Linked DNA regions of Homo sapiens. The protein of the gene in region 1 interacts with the protein of each later gene in a pairwise test. Each region holds a gene or a part of one and is shown in the gene's direction. Other genes may lie near its edges.

Region 1 (2,916 bases):
TGTTATCCCTGAAGCACCTTATATAGCACAAAAGAAACAGGACTGTTTCTAAGAATGAGCCATCTTTAAAAGGTGTAGGAAACCATTAATAATAAGTTGTATTTGACAATTTTTCATTTTCCTTTGAAAACATACCAATCTAAACAACATAGTAGCTTGTTAAATAAAGCATCTTCTGAAGCATTCATTTTCAAAAATGAGGAGATTCTTTCTTTTAGAAAACAGAAGTATAGGAGTTAAATAGTTAAAAAGCCAGATGAATCCCCTCAGATTCTCCGTATCTTGTTTCTGTTAATCTAAAATAACTTCTTTGCTACAGCCCTAGTCGTTACATCTTATTAGTTATATTTAAGGTACTTAACTTGAATTATACCTTTGTATATGAACTTAGCCCTTTAGGAGTACTAACATGAACCATTTTATTAAGCTTCTATTTGTATATGGTGATTTAACTTTCTTAGTGTTTACCATTTGTATGTTTCCTTTTTCCTCTAGCTTCAAAGGAATATTTTGGCATCTAATCCCAGGGTCACAAGATTCCACATTAATTGGGAAGATAACACAGAAAAACTGGAAGATGCAGAGAGCAGTAATCCAAATCTACAGTCACTTCTTTCAACAGATGCATTACCTTCAGCATCAAAGGGATGGTCCACATCAGAAAACTCACTAAATGTCATGTTAGAATCCCACATGGACTGCATGTGACCACCTACCATCCCTTTAGTACAAATTAAGCTATTAAAAATACACAGAACTATTTCCCTGAAATTCCGTAAGTACATAGTCAAAACACAATGTGAAGAATTTGTTTAAAAACATCCTGTAGAAAGTTTATAAGAAAACCAGTATTTGAACAAATTGTGGAATATAAATACAACTATTTTTAAGTAATTTTTTTCTCTAATGTGTTATTTTATTTGTTCTGAAACTAATCTGATTAAAGCATATATATTATTTTCTTCTCCTTTATATGTAATGAAAGCACTTATAAAGAAACAGGAATCATTAGACCAGGTTGTAAAGATGTCTTGGCCTCCCAGACAGTCTTTGGACCACTATTTTACTGGCCTTTGAAAGAACAAAGTTTACTTCAACTAAAATGTTTCTTCCTGTGAAGACATATGGTATCATTTTAATTTAAGGGGCAGATTTCCATTCTTTTTTGGCATGTCCTTAAAAAGAGGATTTGAAATCAACTATATGCTACCAAGAACTTTAGGATCCAATTTTCCAAGCCACCGTGAAGCCTCTTATGGCTACTATTATAGTTCATGAGATGTTGGACAGCATTTGGTTTGTTTGGTAAGAGAAGAACAAATATGGCTAATTGTTAATAAGGTCCCCTGGCTATGGTTTTTGTTCTTATAACAGAGTTTAGAATATCAGAGCATTTCTTGAATCATACATCATTATTGTCCAGTGAATTCAAGACCAAATACAATATCGGGAGAAAATACAAACTCCCTGTGTTTAAGAATAGGGGATTACAATGGCTCAAATTGGTTCATTTGATTTCTAAAAATACCATGACCTTTAAAAATTCTTTTAATAGATCATGTTATTGGCAGTATTTATATAAAAACCATGGATTTAGAAAGGTATATTTAGCTTTATTATAATAGATACGTTACTATTTTGGAAATATATATATTTTCACACCTGTAGTACTCTTCCCCATTTCCTCTGACACTCATGCAGAATGAGATCAGGCATATTTGTGGTTGACATACTCTAGATAGCTTTTCCAACAAATCTTTGAAAAGCAATCTTGGAAAGGAATTCATTAACTAAATGGGGTAAAAGGTTTCTTTTTCTTTGAGAGTTAAGTCCTTCCTCAAAAAATTTTCTTATGCTCCATAAAATTGAGGTAGAATATTTTCATTATTCTTGCAGCTAAGCAAGACAGCCATATGATGCAGGTTATGCAGTGCCTTCATATCTAAAACTTTTATACTGCACTTTTTAAAGCTTTTATGTTGAGGAAAGGAAAAGGGCATTTGTCTAAACATGGATTCTGAGTTGTATATATTTCCTATCATTCTAAAAAAGTGAATTTGTGAAGCAAAGTTTTGCCAGATGTTAAACTTTGAATTTAATATACCAGATTATTAAAATATTGTCCATTAACTAGTTCATAGATTTTAAAAGTAAAATACTTCTGACTGTTAAAACTATATAAAGAAAATCTCATTTGTCTAATTGCAATTAAAAGAAAAATGTTAAAATATTAAAATGAAAATAAAAGCATTACTTTCCAACAAAGAGCTCAGTGGTTAATATAATAGGAACAACATATGTGCTTATTAGAAATAAAGCATATACAGCCAAATCACCAAATAAAGCCATTTACTGCTGAGTTTTTATTCTGACTAATTATAACAATCTATTTGTAGTGACATCAAAGGGTTAGGTTTTTGTATCAAGTTGTAAATGGACAACCAATTTTCACTTAAGCTTGGGACATGCGAACCATTACCTTTTGTTATCTTAAATTTTATCACTCTAAGAATTTTTTTAATGACTGAAAATAGATTTAGACTTCAAACATTAGAAACGTAAGAAACTGTAGCACATAAGTTTTTTTTCCACCCGGTCTAGCGTCATTTGCCAATACTGTATCTGAAGAACTATTTTCCACCCTTTTGCTCATAGTAAATAGCTGTGTCCTAAGAATATAAACATGAACCAATGACTTATGCCACTAAGATGGAGGCATTAAGGGTATTATTTGGGCTGAGAAAACATTCCAGAGGTCTGAAGAAGTATGCATGCATTTATTTGCCCATTCATAACCTTATACAACTTTAGGCTCCCATATAACTATACCCTCTAATTTTAGGATTTGGGGTTTCTAGCTTTCCCAAGAATGTCTATGGCAGCAGTTATCAAAACTTTTTACCATAATCCATGGTA
Region 2 (3,656 bases), on another chromosome or scaffold:
TTTTTTTTTTTTTTTTTTTTTTTGAGACAGAGTCTTGCTCTGTCACCCAGGCTGGAATGCAGTGGCGTGATCTAGGCTCACTGCAACCTCCGCCTCCTAGGTTCAAGTGATTGTTCTGCCTCCGCCTCCCGAGTAGCTGGGACTACAGGCATGTGCCACCACGCCTGGCTAATTTTTTGTATTTTTAGTAGAGACGGGGTTTCACCGTGTTAGCCAGGATGGTCCCAATCTCCTGACCTGGTGATCTGCCCACCTTGGCCTCCCAAAGTGCTAGGATTACAGGTGTGAGCCACCGCGCCTGGCAGCCATTGCCATTACTTTAAAACCTTTCCCAACTTGTGCCCAGGTATCAATGGCAATGCCCTGATGTCCTCAGTAAATTTGTTAAAGTATCTTTTTTTTTTTTTTTTTTTTTTGAGACGGAGTCTTGCTCTGTCACCCAGGCTGGAGTGCAGTGGTGCGATAATCCGCTCACTGCAAGCTCCACCTCCTGGGTTCACGCCATGCTCCTGCCTCAGCCTCCCAAGTAGCTGGGACTACATGCGCCTGCCACCACACCTGGCTAATTTTTTTGTTTTTTGGTTTTTTTTTTTAGTAGAGACGGGGTTTCACCATGTTCGCCAGGATGGTCTCAATCTCCTGACCTCGTGATCCGCCCGCCTCGGCCTCCCAAAGAGCTGGGATTACAGGCGTGAGTCACCGCGCCTGACCCTGTTAAAGTATTTTCTAAGCTTCTTTGAAAACGGAATCTCTTTGTGGTTGCTGCTGATAAAACTCCTTTGACCTGACGATTGCTCTAAGTCCTAATTGCCATATTTATATTCCCATAGTAAGAGTGTTTGGAGATAGTGTTTGAGCTTTTTTGCTGGTGTTAAAAATGCATAATGAAAGATGGCAGAGAGAGGCATATTATATCCAATTCATGAGTTGTTTGTGTTAACAGAAAGCTTATTTTAATCACTTAACATTGTTGATTTGTCTAATCACAGTAGCGCTATTGATTAGGAGCCTGACCTTTAGATGGTTGACTTGTGAGTGTATTCAATATGGTGAAATATGGTGTTGATATATGGCTGCAGATTTTAGAGGTGTCATTAGCAAAGGTATAGGAGTAAAATAGGGGTTATAGTATTCCTTACTCAAATTCTGTATGTGCTAGAGCTGGCTGGAGTCTGTGGCATGCTCATTGGTGTAAGTCGGTAAGGACTATGCTTTTTGCTCCACATCTCTGTTGTGGGAAAGCTAGTCTCTTGAGCATTCTTGATCAGAATGGACTGGAATAATTTAACTTTCGTACTTTCCCAGGCTATTAGTATTATCTAATGAGTGGCTTAAAGATACCAGAAACACTGACTGAGGTCTCCACCTGCTTCTGGCTGAATGAATGGGAGCTTCTAGCCATTGAATAAGAGGCAGTAGCCAATGTTTCTTATTCTGAATGGTCCAGGTTGACTTTTATAAGAGAAACACTCAGCCTTTTAATTGCTGAAGGTCTGACCCATAGACTAAGATTGCACATTCTTAGTCTAGGTTACACTTGAACTAGACTGCACCCACTGACGATATATTCAGTTCAGGTGTTAACTCACTTGGATTAGCATCTGGCCTGTCCTATCTGAATATAGGTTGAGACGTGTATTGGAATCTCTGACTAGTCAGAATACGTTCTTAGTTATATTCTCAATACTGAGGAATTTTTACTTGTAGAAACTGAAGGCTCAGAAGAGGATGATAAAGAAAATGATAAGACCGAAGAAATGCCAAATGATTCAGTCCTTGAAAACAAGGTATGTTGTTAGCCACTCAGTACTGTTGTCAGCCTTTTTCTGTTTTTGGGAGACTGGAGCTCACTCTTGTTGCCTAGGCTGGATTGCAGTGGGGTGATCATGATCATGGCTCACTGCAGCCTAGACCCGGGCTTAAGTGATCGCCTCACCTCAGCCTCTCAAGTAGCTGGGACTACAGGCTTGTGCCAACATGCCCAGCTAGTTTGCAGGACTGTAGCTTACCTAGTTTAGGCACGATTATTATTTTTTTAAGAGATAGAATCTCTGTCTCTGCCCAGGCCGGAGTGCACTGGCATGATCAGGGCTCACTGTATCTTTAGCCTCCTGGGTTCAAGGAATCCTTCTGCCTCATCTTCTCAGATAGCTAGGTCTCCAGATGTCTGCCACCATGTCTGGCTAATTTGTTCTCTAATTTTATTTTGTTTAGACGGCTGTCTTGCTGTGCTGCCCAGGCTGGTCTCAAACCTGGCTTCAAGTTATTCTCCTGCCTCAGCCTCCCAAAGTGTTGGGATTATAGGCATAACCCACCATGCCCAGCCCTAGGCATGATTATTATAGATAACTGTCTCTTGATTATGGATTAGGGACCCTTTATTCATGCCTAGGATGGGTGGATATATTTGATCCTGGGGTTCTTGTGTGTTAGTATGTGAGCCAACATTTCACTGTTAAAATATCAGTGACATGGTCATGACTTAAGACAGTATGTGGACCCATTCTCTAGATTTTAGGGAGAAAGTCCAAATTTTGAATCGTATATCAACTTTTTTTAAGCTACGCTAAGTTATACATTTAGATTTGTATTTGAAAAAGATGCCTATCTTTTTATTATTTGGTTATACTTTAGTCTCTTCAAGAAAATGAGGAGGAGGAGATTGGGAACCTAGAGCTTGCCTGGGATATGCTGGATTTAGCAAAGATCATTTTTAAAAGGTAAAACTCTTGGTGCTTCTAGGCTTGGGTTGGGAGTTTGGTGGTTAAATAGAAACCAGTTAGGGTTAGACAGGTACTGTTAAGGTTTTTGATCAATTTTCCTTCTTTTAGGCAAGAAACAAAAGAAGCACAGCTTTATGCTGCCCAGGCACATCTTAAACTCGGAGAAGTTAGTGTTGAATCTGGTAATGCATTTTCCATTTTATACTCTCCTACTCTCTTCAGCTCCCTCGTTCTTCCTCTAATAGATTCTCTGGAACCGAACTTGATCTTTAAAAAGATAGGTCTGTGTTCCCTGTAGACCCTGGAACAATGAACAGTCTCTTCCAAGTGGCACTCAGTCTTCCAGTAGGTTTGTTTTGTTTTGTTTTTTTTGAGATGGGGTCTTGCTGTGTCGCCTAGGCTGGAGTGCAATGGCGTAATCTCGGCTCACTGCAACCTCCGCCACCCGGGTTCAAGCGATTCTCCTGCCTCAGGCTCTCGAGTAGCTGGGATTACAGGCACCCACCACCACGCCCGGTTAATTTTTGTATTTTTAGTAGAGACGGGGTTTCACCATATTGGCCAGGCTGGTCTTGAACTCCTGACCTTGTGATCTGCCCGCCTCAGCCTCCCAAAGTGCTGGGATTACAGGTGTGAGCCACCACGCCCAGCCTCAGTAGGTTTTTAAAAGTCATTTTGACTTTCTTTATAGCCAAGGGTCCTGGAAATAACTATAAACAAAAATGGAATGTTAAATATGGGTGCATTCCCATAGGATGGGTCTGAATTCTGGAAGTATTTTATGTTGAATGCTGTCCATTTACTTGCTCTTCTTTTTCTCTTTGTTAGAAAACTATGTGCAAGCTGTGGAGGAGTTCCAGTCCTGCCTTAACCTGCAGGAACAGTACCTGGAAGCCCACGACCGTCTCCTTGCAGAGACCCACTACCAGCTGG

The links. Proteins that work in one complex are often made in the same cells at the same time.
Region 2: the proteins of ASF1A (region 1) and NASP interact in binary tests that used the Homo sapiens proteins (3 or more experiments, as listed by UniProt).

What each region holds. Positions count from the first base shown.
Region 1 is NC_000006.12:118,906,907-118,909,822, forward strand, and holds the end of ASF1A (histone chaperone ASF1A), read left to right. Parts: intron 1-495; coding exon 496-708; 3' UTR 709-2,265; downstream 2,266-2,916. UniProt on the Homo sapiens protein: Histone chaperone that facilitates histone deposition and histone exchange and removal during nucleosome assembly and disassembly.
Region 2 is NC_000001.11:45,611,462-45,615,117, forward strand, and holds part of NASP (nuclear autoantigenic sperm protein), read left to right. Parts: intron 1-1,707; coding exon 1,708-1,787; intron 1,788-2,634; coding exon 2,635-2,720; intron 2,721-2,831; coding exon 2,832-2,905; intron 2,906-3,551; coding exon 3,552-3,656. UniProt on the Homo sapiens protein: Component of the histone chaperone network. Binds and stabilizes histone H3-H4 not bound to chromatin to maintain a soluble reservoir and modulate degradation by chaperone-mediated autophagy.